2 separate regions of the Homo sapiens genome follow, and region 1 is linked to region 2. The links come from fine-mapping of genetic effects on gene expression. Tissue or cell type: cerebellum. Region 2 holds a variant in brackets; the other region holds the start of a gene. All regions are shown on one strand. Distances are from middle to middle. Region 1 holds the start of GJB6 (gap junction protein beta 6). Region 2 has its middle 18 kb from the start of GJB2.

The links.
Region 1: it holds the start of GJB6, and the variant in region 2 is fine-mapped to the expression of GJB6 in cerebellum (GTEx, PIP 0.97).

What each region holds. Positions count from the first base shown.
Region 1 is chr13:20,228,416-20,236,415 of GRCh38, forward strand. It overlaps GJB6 (gap junction protein beta 6), which reads right to left and starts at 3,904. Exons shown (of 5, transcript NM_001110219.3): 1 at 3,779-3,904; 2 at 2,967-3,090; 3 at 2,283-2,392; 4 at 1,165-1,334.
Region 2 is chr13:20,207,183-20,215,182 of GRCh38, forward strand. No RefSeq gene overlaps it. Among named protein-coding and RNA genes, the nearest start is that of GJB2, 18 kb to the left of the region's middle. The variant C/T (reference allele first, on the strand shown) is at 3,928.

The DNA.
Region 1 (8,000 bases), 21 kb after region 2:
AGTAAATGTAATCATAGTGAAGAACTCGATGCTGTTTTTTCTTGTTTGTTTGTTTTTGTTTTTTGTTTTTGTTTTTTGTTTTTTTTGAGATGGAGTCTAGCTCTGTTGCCCAAGCTGGAGTACCGTGGCACGATCTCGGCTCACTGCAAGCTCCGCCTCCCGGGTTCACGCCGTTCTCCCGCCTCAGCCTCTCTGAGCAGCTGGGACTACAGGCGCCTGCCACCAAGCCCGGCTAATTTTTTGTATTTTTAGTAGAGACGGGGTTTCACCGTGTTAGCCAGGATGGTCTCGATCTCCTGACCTCATGATCCGCCCCCCTTGGCCTCCCAAAGTGCTGGGATTACAAGCATGAGCCACCGCGCCCGGCCCATGCTATATTCTTGATACTAAAGCTCCAGTCTGAAATATCTAGCTCTAAAAATAAGTAAACCATGGACTTTACTTTTGAGGATCCACACAGCATTGTGAAGATAGGTTGTTCTTTCCTTTTACAATTCAAATAATTTAGATCTATTGGCATTTGACTGCACTAATGAAATTTCTTGATTGTTTTAAAACTTCTTAGGAAATTAATCACAACTAGCTTATTTATCTATGCCATTATAATTTCACTAATGACAGAACCAAAACTAAAGCCCCCAAAGTTAGAGTGTAACCCCTCAGCATATTTTTCTAGATAGCTCTGTTCCCCTTTCAATGTCATTTAGCAAAAAAAAAAAAAAAAAAAAAAAAAAATTTTTTTTTTTTTTTTTAGACAGAGTCTTGCCCTGTTGCCCAGGGTGGAGTGCAATGGTGCAATCTCAGCTCACTGCAACATCTGCCTCCCCGGTTCTAGTGATTCTTGTGCTTCAGCCTCCTGAATAGCTGGGACTACAGGCATATGCCACCATACCTGGTTAATTTTTTTTTTTTTTTTTTTTTTTTTTTTTTTAGTAGTGACAGGGTTTTGCCACCTTGGTCAGGCTGGTCTTGAACTCCTGACCTCAGCCTCGGCCTCCCAAAGTGTTGGGATTACAGGCATGAGCCATCGCGCCTGGCCATCTAGGGAGTAGTTGATAGATCTGAGAACAGGAACATGTGCCTCCCAATTTCGAAGTTAGCTTTGGATAGTCGGGGAGTCTGCATAGATAAAAGGAAAACAATATCAAAGCAAAACAAGCAAACCTGAGTCCTGTTTCCAACGACTGCCAGTGTTTCAGACCCAAAGAATGAGGGCAAGATCCCTCTGCGAGGGTTTCAGACCTCCTTCTCCTACCCCACTGGAGTGCCTAGAAGCCAATGGTGCACAGTGATGATACGAATGTCAATCTTTGCTCGGTCAGTGAGGATGTCGCCTGTTGAGGGAAAAATAGTAGCTGTTGCCATATTCCTTTAACTCCCCCCCCCCCCGCCCCCCGCAATATGTCCCCTGAATAAACTTTGTGGGTAGTTTTTCTTCATTCCCAGAACTGTTATGAGGTAAGTTCAGAAATTGCCAGCTTCCTGATGCTCTATGCTTTGAACACACAAAATAATCAAAGGTGCTCTTTAGTAGGATCCTTTCCCTATCAAAATAACAGTAACACCCAATCTGAGGCCTCAAGCCCACTCCTTGAGCAAAACAAAAAGGGACAGGGGAGAGTTTGAGACACTGGCTACACCCTGATCCCCAAATCAGTGGTTTAAAAAAAATCTCAGACTCTTTCTTCAATCAGGAAGAATAGATTTCTTTTGTCTCTAGAAATCTCAGGTCATCCAAGGGACAACCTGATAGTTGATTTTTAAATTTAGTGACAAAAAACTTCAGCAACTGTCCTGATAGAGTAACAGCTAGTGATAACAATGGGTCAGGGATTCATATATTTCAAAATTAACTCAATAAAAATGAAACGTTTCTGTCTGTGGAGTCTAGATGTAAAAATGGAAAACTCATGCAATTACGTATGTTTCTTACATCATTTAAGAATTCAAAGAGTTAAAAATTAATTTCCATTAAGTTAAACTTTCCTTCTCTGGGTCTTGTTAGCAATATATGTTTGTTCATTCAAGCAAACCTGTGTCCTTTCCAAACATTTAAGCTCAACTAGATTTAAATGACCCTGGGAATAAAAATGGAGCAGGCCCTCTGGGGTTCCAGGTCTATGCTCATGCACTAAGCAACTAAAACAGAAATCATAACCTATGGCAGGTGGCCATTAGAAGGTTATGCCCTCACAGACCAAGAAGCTTGGGTCAGAAATCACTTTCCCACAATTTTATCCCATTTAACATTTAAACTAATATATGCAAACTGCTCACAGCACCTGGAATATTCAAATTGAATTAAAGATGCATGAAGAGGGCGTACAAGTTAGAATTTTTCTTTCGCCATACAGAAATTGTTTAGCCAGATCTTCTGTACTTCTTTTCCTTCCTAACACTCAGAATTCAGAAGAGAAGACATAAGAAAAAAAGCATAAAGTCATCATTACCTGTATCAGAATTTGTTTAAAAAACAACCAGTGGGGCAGGTGAACTGACCAGCGTCTTCCCAGCTTTAGTCACTGCAGTGGCAATGAGGCGCTCTCCACACCCCCAGTTATGTGACAGGCTAGAGCCCTGGTGTTCTCTCTTCAGAACCCCCCTCTCCTCCTTGGCAAGCTTCAAGCAACACCCCCAAAGACGCTGCTGGATCCAAACAACAGACAAAGCTCTCCACAGGAGCAGTTCTGAGCAGCACCCTGCAATTCTAAGGAGACTGCATGGGGGCAGGACATTTTCTTCTAGAACACTGGTTAGATTCTGCTAGAACTGGGGCAAGAAAATAGCTGTATGGCATAAAGTCTACTTGAGGGAAAAGAACAACCCGGCACGGTTACGTTCAATCAGACACTAAACAGAGTGCACGCCCACCCAGGGGACACTGAGGTCGCTGGGCCAGTGTCCCCGCCTGGTTGCAGGTCCCTAACCCCTCCGGGAGTGCAGAGCTGCGGGCAGGCCACACTCACCCTGACCCTTCCTGCTCCCCAGGAAGGGAGGTCAGCCCCGTTTGCAAAACACAGGATGCCCGTGACACCGGAGACAGGTCTTCTTCACCGACAGGAAGTGCCTTCTGGTGCCTGCACGTTTTAACTAAGATGTGTCGCCAATTACTTTTAATTACTGTCGTCCACGCTATTGTCATCAGCATTTCACAAGTTTCTCGGAAGCCCATCACGCAGCCCATACCCTGCGGTTCTCCGGGGACTTATGCATCGGCCCAAGTTGAGGGTTTGTCTGAACTGAAACCCGCATCCTAGACCTGGCTTTCTTCTCCCCAAATCCAAGGGGACACCCCGGTGACCCACAAAAGCTTAGAAAATCCAACACGCAGCAAATGAAACGGGGGAAAGGGGCACCGGCCCTCACTCTGGCCTCTTAGACACACGATATGAAACCTTCATAAAACCTGTTGTACAAGTCAAAGGGGACCACGCTGGGGTAAAAGTCAAACCAGTCCATCCTCGTTCCTCTGCGTACAGAGAGAGGGTCCAGCGCGGGCGGCGCCCACTGCCATCGGGCCGGGGCCGGGGCGCGTGGACAGGAGGGTGCGGATAGAGGCAGATCGGGGGCCCGGTCGCCCCACGTGCGGCCAGACACCCATCCCGGCCGCGCTCTGCCGGCTCTGATCCGGTGCCAGACAGGAGCGACAGGGGCGAGGTGGGGACCAGCCGCCGACCTCACCTGTTTTGTTTTCTTGGAGGAAATTCCTCCGCTGGGGGGCCGAGGTGGCACCGCCCGCTCGCCCCCCGCAAGACCCAGCCGGTCCGCGCCCGCTTACCTGCTCTGCGGCCGGCGGCCCTGGCGCGGGCTCTGCGCGGGGCGGCGCCCTTCGCTCCGGCTGGGCAGGCAGGTCGGGCTCGGGCGCCGCCGGCTGTCGGGCTCTCGTCGGGTTTCGGGTGAAGGCCCCGGCTCCCACCTGCTGCGCCTTTTAACCGCGCCCCACCCCGCCTCTGCCCTGACGCGGCTCGGGCGGGCTGCGGGAGGCGAGCGCTGTCACTCGACGAGCCCCCCGCCCCCACCTACCCGGGGCGCACTAGCCGCTGGGCGCGGACCGTCCCCCTGAGGAGCAAGGAGTGCAGGACCGGGGCTGTCCCTCCGGGGCCGGATGCGCAGAGCGGGGACCTTTTTCCCGTGGCGGGGGCGCAGGGTGGGGGACCCCTAAGAAGTGCACAGTGCGCGGGGCCCTCTTTCCGGCCCTTGGAGGGAACGGGGTACCGGGGATGCAGGGGGTAGGGCTCTCCCTCGGGAGCGCAGAGGGCGGGCCCAGCCCCCTCTGCACGGGTGCAGGTGTGGGGCGCCTGCTCAGGCCCTCGAGGGAACTCTTCCTCCCTAGTGCACCCGTGGGGAGCAGTGTGAGGGGCAGGCTGTGTTTTTGCCAGGACACATCCTCAGTCTTTCTGGGTGATCCAGCCTTCTCATAGCCCGCGGGGTGCACAGACCTCTCCTATAGGAGCCTGGAGGTTCTTTATTAATTAATGACCACTTAGAGGAGGTACAGGGGTTGTTTTTATTAATTACCTCCATCCTTTGAAGACTCCTCCGGGGAAGCGGAGCAGGCCTTCCTCGGGACAGTGCACCAGGAGAGACCACATTGCCTCCCCGCTTTTCAGTCAAGACTAGAAAGCTCAGGGCCAGTACAGGGAGTGGTGCAAGGGCTGGTGGGGTGGAAACGTTGGAAGCTATTTAGGCACCTGGCTTTACAGGTTCAAACCTGTCACGCATCGGACAAAAGATGTGTGACTTGCTTATTCTACAAAACTGTTCGGTAATTAAACGTCCCCACCTAAACCATATGCCACTTGTTGGGTCATATTCTCCCACGAAACAATTAAGATGTCTGTTAAAGGTCATGGAATTTGAGCCAAGACTTCATAAAAATCCGCTTTCCAAAATATTTTATTTGAGGAGAACAAGGTTCTTAAAGAATTTGCCCAAGTCAAGTTTTAAAAACTTTGGGGAGGCCCCTGAAATGGCCTTGAACTTGGAGAGTGGAGAGACACAGAAATCTCTAGGCTTTTTAAATTTATTTATTTATTTATTTATTTATTTATTTATTTATTTATTTTGACTAAGTCTGGCTCTGTTGCCCAGGCTGGAGTGTGGTGGTGTGATCTCAGCTCATTGCAACCTCTGCCTCCCGGGTTCAAGTGATTCTCCTGCCTCAGCTTCCCGAGTCGCTGGGATTACAGGCCCGCACCACCATGCCTGGCTAGGTTTTGTATTTTTAGTAGAGCTGGGTTTCACCATGTTGGCCAGGCTGGTCTGGAGCTCCTGACCTCAGGTGATCCACCTGCCTCAGCCTCCCAAAGTGCTGGGATTACAGGCGTGAGCCACCGCGCCGAGCATCTCTAGGCTTTTTTGTTAGACATCCTCACACTGCCCAGATGTGCCCTATGCGGTAAATCTTGGGTGCTCTGTCCTGCCCCACACAATCTAACTGTGGACTTCCCAGTCTTCTCTCCATTCCTCTCCCAAACAGATGCTTCAGCCAGGCTCAGCTGTTTGCATAGTAAAATAATTTTTCTAAGCAGATTGTAAACTTCTTTGGGGATTATAAACAGTTTAAGCTTTTCTTCCTCTTCTTCTTCTTTTGCATTTCTACAATACTAAGTACTTTGCTCATAGTATGTGCTGCTCCATGAGTATTTGAATATTGCTTGGCAAAGCTGAACCAGCATAGCAGATAGTCCTGGAAATAGCTTTTGCTTTTTCTAAAGCATGCCCTGTTCTCAATCCTGCACCTGATTCCATGCAGTACTGTGTCTGAGCATTGACATCCTGGACCAGTGGAAATTGTTCTAGGACTGGTGCAGGATAGAACTTTCAAACCAAAGTTGTCACAGAGAATGTGTTGCATTTGCTCATGTGTGCAAAAATGAAACCATCTCATCACTGTGTAAAATATCTCTTTTTCTGTTCAGGTTATCTATATTAGTCTGCATGGCCTTAACATTGAACACTGTCCTTCAGTTTTTGCTACTCATCAGACAGTCTTGTTGCAGCAGAAATTAAATGTGGACTGTATAAAACTTAAGGACTTGATGGGATGCGCATTTGAAAACTGAAAATTAGTTGTCTTAGTCCATTTGTGTTGCTATAACAGAATACCATAGACTGGGTAACTGATAAAGAAAAGAAATTTATTTTTCAGAATTCTAGAGGCTGGGAAGTCTGATATCAAGATGCTCGCATCTGGCGAGGGTTTTCTTGCTGTGTCTTCCCATGGCAGAGGTGGAGGGGCAAAAGAATGAGAAGATAGGGAAAGAAAAGAGAGAGAGGTGGGGGTGGAGAGAGAGGAAGGGGTTCAAACTCATTGTTTTTTCAGGAACCCACTCTCAAGATAACTAACCCACTCTAGAGATCACAGCATTAATCCATTCATGAGGGCAAAGCCATCATACCTCCTCACCTCTTAAAAGTCCCTCCCATCTTTCAACACTGTTTCATTGGGGATTAAGTTTCCAACACATGGACTTTAGGGGACACATTCAAACCATAGCATTCTGTCTTAGCCCCCCAAATTCATGCCTTTCTCACATGTGAAATACATTCATTCCATCCCAATAGTCCCCAAAGGCTTAACTCTTCCAGCACCAACTGAAAAGTTCAAATCCAGAGTCCCATCTAAATCAGATAAAGCTAAGACTCCAAGGCAGGCATAGCTGGCCTGAGGCAGACTCCTTTCCAGCTGTGAACCTGTGAAATCAAAACAGGCTATCTACTCCCAAAAGACAATGGTGGGGCAGGCATAGGAGAGATATTTTCATTCCAAAAGGGAGAGAGAGGCAGGAAGAAAGGGGTAACTGGTTCCAGCTACATCTAGAACCCAACATGCATGTGTTAGGCTGTTTTTGCATTGCCACAAATAAATACCCGAGGCTGGGTAATTTATAAAGAAAAGACAGGCCGGTGTGGTGGCTCACGCCTGTAATCCCAGCACTTTGGGAGGCTGAGGCAGGAGGATTGCTTGAGCTCAGGAGTTTAAGACCATCCTGGGCAATATAGTGAGACCTCATCTCTACTAAAAAAAAAAAAAAAAAAAAAAATTAGCTGGGTGTGATGGTGTGTGCCTGTAGTCCCTGTTACTCAGGAGGCTGAGGCAGGAGGATCACTTGAGCCTGGGTGATGGAGGCTGCAGTGAGCTATGATCTTGCCACTGTGCTCCAGCCTGAGCAACACAGTGAGACCGGTCTCAAAAAAAGAAAAGAAAAGAAATTTAATTCACTCATGGTTCTGCAGACAGTGCAAGAAACATGGTGCTAGCATCTGCTTCTGGTGAGGGCCTCAGCAAGTTTCCAATCACGTTGGAAGGACAAGGGAGAGCAAATGTCTCACATGGTGAGAGTGCGAGCAAGAGAAAAAGCAGGGAGGTGCCCTATACTTTTAAATAACCAGATCGCAAGTGAACTCATTGGTCACCAAGGGGATGGCACTAAGCCATTCATTAGGGATCCACCCCCATGATTCAAACACCTCCCACTAGGCCTCGCCTCCAACATTGGAGATTACACTTCAACATGAGATTTGGAGGGGACAAATACCCAAACTATATCAATGGAAAAAAAACATTAAGTCTTAAAACTGGTGAATAATCTCCTCTGACTCCCTGTCCTGCGATCTGGGCACACTGGAGTGGGGCTTGGACCCCTCAAGACCTCAGGCAGCCCCTCCCCTATGGCTTTGCTGGGATCAGTCCACCCAGCAGCTCTCAGAGGTTGGAGTCTCATGCCTGCAGCTTTCCCAGGTTGGAGTTGCACACTAGTGACCCTACAGTTCTGGGGGATCGGGGCTCCCCGGCTCCCATGCCTCACCTCTGTGACAAGTGTCTGCCTGAGCCCCTAGCCGGTCCAAGTCATCCTTTGAAATCTAGGTGGAGGCCACCATGGCCCCACAGCTTGTACATTCTGCATGTCTGCAGAGTCAGCACTACATGCATGCCACCAAGGTTTGCAGCTTATACCTTCCAGAATGGTGGGTCAAACTGTGGGGTGCTGTGCCAG
Region 2 (8,000 bases):
TATCACAAGGACAAAAAAGCCAAACACCGCATGTTCTCACTCATAGATGGGAATTGAACAATGAGAACACATGGACATAGGAAGGGGAACATCACACTCTGAGGACTGTTGTGGGGTGCGGGGAGGGGGGAGGAATAGCATTAGGAGATATACCTAATGCTAAATGACGAGTTAATGGGTGCAGCACACCAGCATGGCACATGTATACATATGTAACAAACCTGCACATTGTGCACATGTACCCTAAAACTTAAAGTATAATAATAATAAAAAAAAGAAAAAAGAAAAAAAAAGATTAAATTTCCTAGAAAATCTTTGTTCCAAAAAAAAAAGAAAGAACGACTTATCGTTCTTTCGATCTCTTACGGCTGGATATCTAAGGGCCCATCCAATGCCTAGAGATGGAGGCTGGAGAAGTCCTCGCTGGGGAGATGCGCAGGGCAGGCAGGGAGGGCAGCAGCTGGTGACACGGTGGCCCTCCCAGGGCGGGGACTGCCTGACCCCTCCAACCCCATCCCCGCGTGGAACAGGTTGCTGAAAAACAAACTCATGTTTTCAGTCCATAGGGCTGAAAAGGGTCTGTCTATAGTGATTACACACCAATGACTGAATGCAGCCCACATTTCACAGCCGCAGGTCCAGAGTGGAACTGTTTCAGAGAGGCACAGCTATTTCTACGGGCCGCTCGAAATGGCATGTGTCTGGGAGCGTTTCTGAAGACCAGCATGAGATGAGGATGACCTGAGGGACTTATCAAAATGCAGATTCTGGAGCCCATCCCGGGCTGACTGAATTCGACCTTCTGAAGGTGGGTGCTGGGATGGACATTTTAAGCAACCCCACCGGGTAATTCTTAGGCACACTGAAATGGGACCATTTTGCTGCTCCTTGCAACCTGGACTAAGCCTGGTTGATTAAAAATCAACCCCTGGCTGGGCGTGGTGGCTCACGTCTGTAATCCCAGCACTTTGGGAATCCAAGGCAGGTGGATCACCAGAGGTCAGGAGTTCGAGACCAGCCTGGCCAAGATGGTGAAACCCCGTCTCTACTAAAAATATAAAAAATTAGCCGGGCGTGGTGTTGGGCGCCTGTAATCCCAGGTACTCTGGAGGCTGAGGCAGGAGAATCGCTTGAACCCAGGAGGTGGAAGTTGTGATGAGCCAAGGTTGTGCCATTGCACTCCAGCCTGGGGAGCAAGAGTGAAACTCTGTCTCAAAAAATAAAATAAAATAAAATAAATAAATAAAAATAAAAATAAAATAAATAAAAATAAAAAATAAATCAACTCCTAAGTTTATTAAAAATACAGATTTCTGGCCAGGCGTGGTGGCTCACGCCTGTAATCCCAGCACTTTGGGAGGCCGAGGCGGGTGGATAACGAGGTCAGGAGATCGAGACCATCCTGGCTAATGCGGTGAAATCCCGTCTCTGCTAAAAATACAAAAAATTAGCCGGGTGTGGTGGCGGGCGCCTGTAGTCCCAGCTGCTTGGGAGGCTGAGGCAGGAGAATGGTGTGAACCCGGGAGGCAGAGCTTGCAGTGAGCCAAGATTGTCCCACTGCACTCCAGCCTGGGTGACAGAGCGAGACTCCGTCTAAAAAAAATAAAAAATAAAAAATAAAAATACAGATTTCTGGGTTGTGGGACCAGAAGTTCTGATCCAGTAAATTTGGGAAGCCATGGGCTATAGTCTGTACTTATTTGGTTCTTATGATCTTATAGCTGGACTTAGCACTTGTTATGGATTGAATGTTTGTATCCTCCCTGAAATTCCTGTGTTGAAATCCTAACCCCCAATTAGGAGGTGGGGTCTTGCGGAGGTGAAGGGGAATAGAATTAGTGCCCTTATGAAAGAGATCCCAGAGAGCCCCCTTGCCCCTTCAGCCACAGGAGGGCACGGTGAGAAGGCCGTGTCTGTGAACTAGGAGGCAGTCCTCACCAGACATCAAATCTGGTGATGTCTGATTTTGGACTTTCAGCCTCCAGAATGGTGAAAAATAAATTTCTGTGGTTTATAAGCCACCCAGTCTATGGTATTCTCTTATAGCGGCCTGAACTGATTAGGACAGCCCTATTTTGACGAACATACTTCTGGGGAAACTTAAGATCTTGAGCCCATTGACATTAGCTCCAACTGAAGGGTGTCTGTCTTCAGCACGTAGAAATGTGGTGTATGGGGAGGAAACACACAGTGTTAAATTTCAAATCCCACACCTCTTTTAAGGAGGTTAGAGCCTGTGTCACACTTTCAGCCAAGAGTCTCTCTCTGATATTAATTCTGAACTTAAATAGTAATTTTTGACAAGTGCCAGGCATACCCCTTCATGAGCAGAATCTAGAAGACCACTCACAGGTCTCTCTTTGAGCTGAAGTTCAGCCAGAAACAGTCAATTCCCCTCTGGATTTATGCCTTCTCTTCAGTGAACATTGAAGAGTTGAATAGATACTGGCTACCATTGGGAAGAGACTGTTTCATGTTGTATTAATATATTTCAAATAGAGAACTAATGTCTAAGTTAATAAGAGATGAATAAAAGTAAATGGTATACAAAGAAATAATTATTTACAGCTTACTGCTAACCACAATTTAAAATACCACATTAATCCTGAATCTATAAACTTAAAAGTTTGGTTAGGAAAAAGCTAGAAATCAATTATACCTAGAAATAATTTAGGTTGACAAGCACCTTCACATTTCTGAGGCTGATTAATGATAGAGTCTCTGCTGTCTGTAATATTATCTTTAAAGAGATTCTTGGCTGTAGTTTCACAGTTAATTTAATTCCTCATCTTGGTGAGATTTTCCCACTGCACTCTGCCATCTGAATGGTTTCAAGGCCTTCTGTTACTTCACCAACTTTTTCCCTATTAAAATGGCCTGAAAAGGCCTTGGCCAGCCTGCTCTGTTCTTCCATCAGCATTCACCTAAGTACTCCTCATGGGTGGGAGAAACCATGGCAACAGCAGTTCTGGCGCATAGGGAGGTTATTCACAGGGCTTCAGAAAACTACTGGCAGGTCCCTCACAGTAAGGAAGCCAATGAGCCTTCTTCCCCTCCCAACAGCCATGCCACAAAGTCAGGAGAAAAAGGATTGGTATTTCAGATGCTGATTAGTTCAACATCCACTTATTGGTACTCAGTATGTGAAGAATCATGTTGAGGCAGGAGCAAAGGGAATGAGATCAGCTCTTCTCTGTTCAGGAGCCCCTGCCCTAGTAGAGAAGCAGAGAGAACTTAGCAAAGCAGAAACACTCTCAGAGCACCCTGGGGAGGAGGGTCGGGAGAGATGATGCTGCCTGGAGGGAGGCAGGAGAATCCTCAAGAAGAAGACTTTGAGCTGGTCTAGAAGGACAGGGTGGAGGAAGGGACAGGCAGGCAGGCCATTCCGGGTAGAAGAGAGCTTGTGTAATGCCCAGAGGTGGGGATAAGAAAATGACCCTTGAGAAACAGCAAGTGCCCTCGGGAAGGTTGAAAATGGAGAGCATGGAGACTCCCCATCACTCTCTCACAGACTGAGAGATTAACTGGAAAACTAAGGCTGGACTGTGGTTGGAGGGGTTGGGAAGACAGTGGCCCAAAACACAGATGGGTGTCAACAAAAACAAAACAAACTCAAAGACAAGCCAGGAAAAGCCTTCTGTCTCCAGTCTAAGGGTCAGTAAAGGGGAAGCCTAGCAAGACATAAAAATTTTAGGCCGGGCGCGCTGGCTCACGCCTGTAATCCCAGCACTTTGGGAGGCCGAGGCGGGCGGATCACTAGGTCAGGAGATCAAGACCATCCTGGCCAACACGGTGAAACCCCGTCTCTACTAAAATACAAAAAATTAGCCAGGCGTGGTGGCACACGCCTGTAGTCCCAGCTTTTCAGGAGGCTGAGACAGGAGAATTGCTGGAACCCAGGAGGCAGAGGTTGCAGTGAGCCAAGAT[C/T]GTGCCATTGCACTCCAGCCTGGCGACAGAGCAAGACTGAATCTCAAAAAAAAAAAAATTTTTTTTAGACAATAACCAGTCTACTTCAGCCAAATATCGCAGAAAAAACTGTGTCCCTGCTACCACTCACCCATGCCAGCAAAGGCCAAACAGGTTGCTCAGGCTTCTGCCCTAGCAAGGCTGTAATAGGGTGCCCCAACATCCCCACTGGGACAGTGTCAGAAAAAGCAAAGTAGGGAGCTTGGACTTTTGTCCCAGCAGGTAACAAGACCCTCCTGCCACATGATGTTAGTGGCGGCCATATTGGGAATCTGGACCCCATCCCACCTAGCAGTAATGAGGCACCACTGCCCCTCCCCCAGGTGGTGTCAAAGAAGGTCTAGTGGAGAGTCAGGACTTTCATCAGTGCCTACTAGAAATGAGGCCACCCCCACCATGGTGTTGGTGGAGATTACACTGAGAGCTGGAACTGCCAACCCTGCCCCACAAGGAGCCTCTCCTCACCTTGGGTGTCAATGGAGGTCAAATGGAAAAGCTGGACTTCTACCTCCACCTGACAGCATGAGGTGGCACCCATTCCCTTCTGGAGGGGTGACAGAGAAAGCCAGTTAAAACAGAGATTTTAAAGGAGATCCAGTCTTATGACATAACACCCAGAGTGTCCAGGTTTTTGTTGTTGTTGTTGTTTTTTGAGGCAGAGTTTTGCTGTTGTTGCCCAGGCTGGAGTACAGTGGTACAATCTCGACTCACTGCAACCTCCGCCTCCTGGGTTCAAGCAATTCTCCTGCCTCAGCCTATCGAGTCGCTGGGATTACAGGTGCCCATGACCACAACCCACTGATGTTTTGTATTTTTTTTAGTAGAGATGGGGTTTCACCATGTTGGCCAGGCTGGTCTCAAACTCCTGACTTCAGGCAATCCACCCGCCTCAGCCTCCCAAAGTTCTGGGATTACAGGTGTGAGCCACCACGCCTGGCCAGACTGTCCAGGTTTCAACTGAAAATCCCTTGTCATACCAAGAACCAAGACCTCAACCTGAATAATCAAAACAATACGAAGATGGCAGGGATGTTAGAATAATCTGACAAAGGTCTAAGGCAGTCATGATAAAAAGGCTTCAATGAACAAATACAAACATGTTTGAAACAGAAATAGAAAATGTCAGTGAAGAAATAGATGATATAGAGAAGAACCAAATGGAAATTCTAGAACCGTAAAATACAATAACTAAAATAAAAATACAAAAACTAAAAATAGAAAGAATTAGTGGACCAAAACAATAGAAACTACTCAATCTAAACAACAGAGAGAATAGAGACTGAAAAAAAAATGAGCAGAATTCTGGGTACCTGAGTTATTACAACAAAAGCCTTGACATTTGAGCCATCAGAATCCCAGAAGTTGAAGAGAAAGAGGGCAGGACTAAAAAAGGACTTGAAAAAATAATGGCTGAAAACTTTCCAAATTTTGTAAGAGATCTATATCCACAAATTCAAGAAGTGAACCCTAAACAAAATAAACCCAAAGAAATCATGCCGAGACACATCATAATTAAATTTCGGAAAACTGAAGACAAAGGAACAATCTTAAAAGTAGCCAGAGAAAAACATTGCCTATAGGGAAAAACCATTCAAATTTCTCCTTAGAAATTATGGAGGCCAGGCTGGGTGTGGTGGCTGATGCCTGTAATCCCAGCACTTTGGGAGGCTGAGGCAGGCAGATTGCTTGAGGCCAGGAGTTTGAGATCAGCCTGGCCAACAGGCGAAATCAGGGCTCTACTAAAAATACAAAAAAAAAAGAAAAAAAAAATTAGCCAGTGGTGGTGGTGTGCACCTGTAATCCAAGCTACTCAGAAGGCTGAGGTGGGAAGATTGCTTGAGCCCAGGAGGTGGAGGTTGCAGTGAGCTGAGATTGCACCACCGCAAGAAATCATGGAGGCTGTGGCACAATATTTTTCAGGTCAACTCAAAATTCTATTCCAGGCATAAATATCCTTCATGAGTGAGGAGGTAATAAAAACTTTCTCAAATAAAAGAAAGCAAAAAATTTATCACCAAGAGACCAATCATAAAAGAATAGCCAACAGAAGTTCTATATTCAGAAAGGAAATGATAAAAGAAGGAATCTTAGAACATCAGAAAGAACATGTTAAGCAACAGTATGGGTAAATACAATAGATTTTCCTTCTTCTCTTGTGTTTTCTAAATTATATTTAGCAGTTGAAAGAAAAATTACAACACTGACTGATGTGGTTCTAAATATATGTAGAGGAAATATCTAAGACAATTATAAATGGAGGAGGGTTAAGGGACATAATGGGAAATAAGGTTTCTCTATGTCACTCAAATTGGTAAAGTGACAACATTAGGAGGCTGTGATAAGTTGTGTAAATACAATATAATACCTAGGGCAACCACTAAAAATGTTACAGAAAGATACACACAAAAATAATAGATACATAAAAATAGAACTCTAAAAAACATTTAAGCAAACTACAGAAAGGGACGAGGGAAAGAAAACGGAAATAAAAAACAGACATAACAAACAGAAAACAAAAAATAAATGGCAGATCTAAGCCTTAAAACATCAACAATTACATTAAATATAATTGGTCTAAATACATCCATTAAAAGACAGATTAACAAAATGGACTAAAACACATTACTGAACTATGTGCTGTCTATAAGAAACTCAATTCAAATTTAAGGATATAGGCAGGTCAAAAGCAAAAGGATGGAAAAAGGTATACCATGTAAACTTCAGAGCAAAGAAAATTATGAGCCAGAGACAGACGTCATATAATGCTAAAAGTGTTAATTCACTAAGAAGGCATAGCAATCCTGAATGTGTATGCACCAAATAACAAAGCTGAAAAATAAGTGATGCAAAAACTGATGAAACTGAAAGGAGAAATAGACATATCCACAAATATAGATGAATACTTGAACACCCTCTCTCAATAACTGATAGAAAAACTAGGCAGAAAACCAGCAAGGACATAAAAGAACTCAATGACACCATCAACCAAAAGGCTCTAGTTGGGATTTGCCAAGCACTTCACCCAACAACACTGAAATATACATTCTTTTCTAGTCCAACAAATGTGTACCAAGATAGGCCACATTTTATTTAAAAATATCACACCTGTTTTAATCAGGTGTGATAAGAAATGCAGGCATGGAAATGACTGTCATGAAGGAAGAGGTTTTTACTTAGAGTGCTCTAGAAATAGGGGGCAAACACACCTTGCAGAGCCACATGGAAAAGTACCAGAGTCAGTCAGGAGGCAGAGGGTGTCAGGGGGAAATGTGGGCAAGAGCCATTAATGTGGTTACTCTGGGAAAGGCAAGGCAGAGTAAACAGGCTTAGCAGACTTGGGATTGGCTAGTGTGAAACTTTCAGGGGGCTCTGAGGCATAGGGGCTATCCCCATTGGTCTGATATCTGGCCCTGGACTGATTGGGGCAGGTAGACAGTGGCCTAGAATGTGAAATCTCTGTGAGCGACTGATGAAGGGGGTGGTTAGGGTCTAGGTTTGGAATGGTTGGTTTGCATATGATTGGTGCACTCACAGGGAGTTATTTGCCATCTCTAGGAATTAGCTGGCTCTGGGAGGGACAGTCTCCCCAAGGTTAGTAAGGCCACGAACATTATTCTGATATCAAAACAGAAGAGTAAAAAGACATGCTTAATACATAAGCCATAAAACAAACCTCAATACATTTCAAAGAATAAAATAATAGTGTGTTCTCTGGCCATAATAAAATCAAACTAGAAATAAATAGCAGAAAGATAATAGGAAAATTTCCAAACACTTGGAAACTAAAACACACTTCTAAATACATTGTACCAAATGAAATTTAAAAATAAAACATATCAAAATTTGTTAGCATAGCTAAAGGAGTGCTGATAGGGAAATGTATATCACTGAATGCATACTGCAGGAAAGAAGAAAAGACTGAGATCTAAGTTCCTACTCGAAGAACCTAGAAAAAGAAGAGCAAAATAAACCAAAAGCAAAAAGGAAGAAAATAATAAAGATAAGAGCAGAAATCAATTATCCTGAAAACAGAA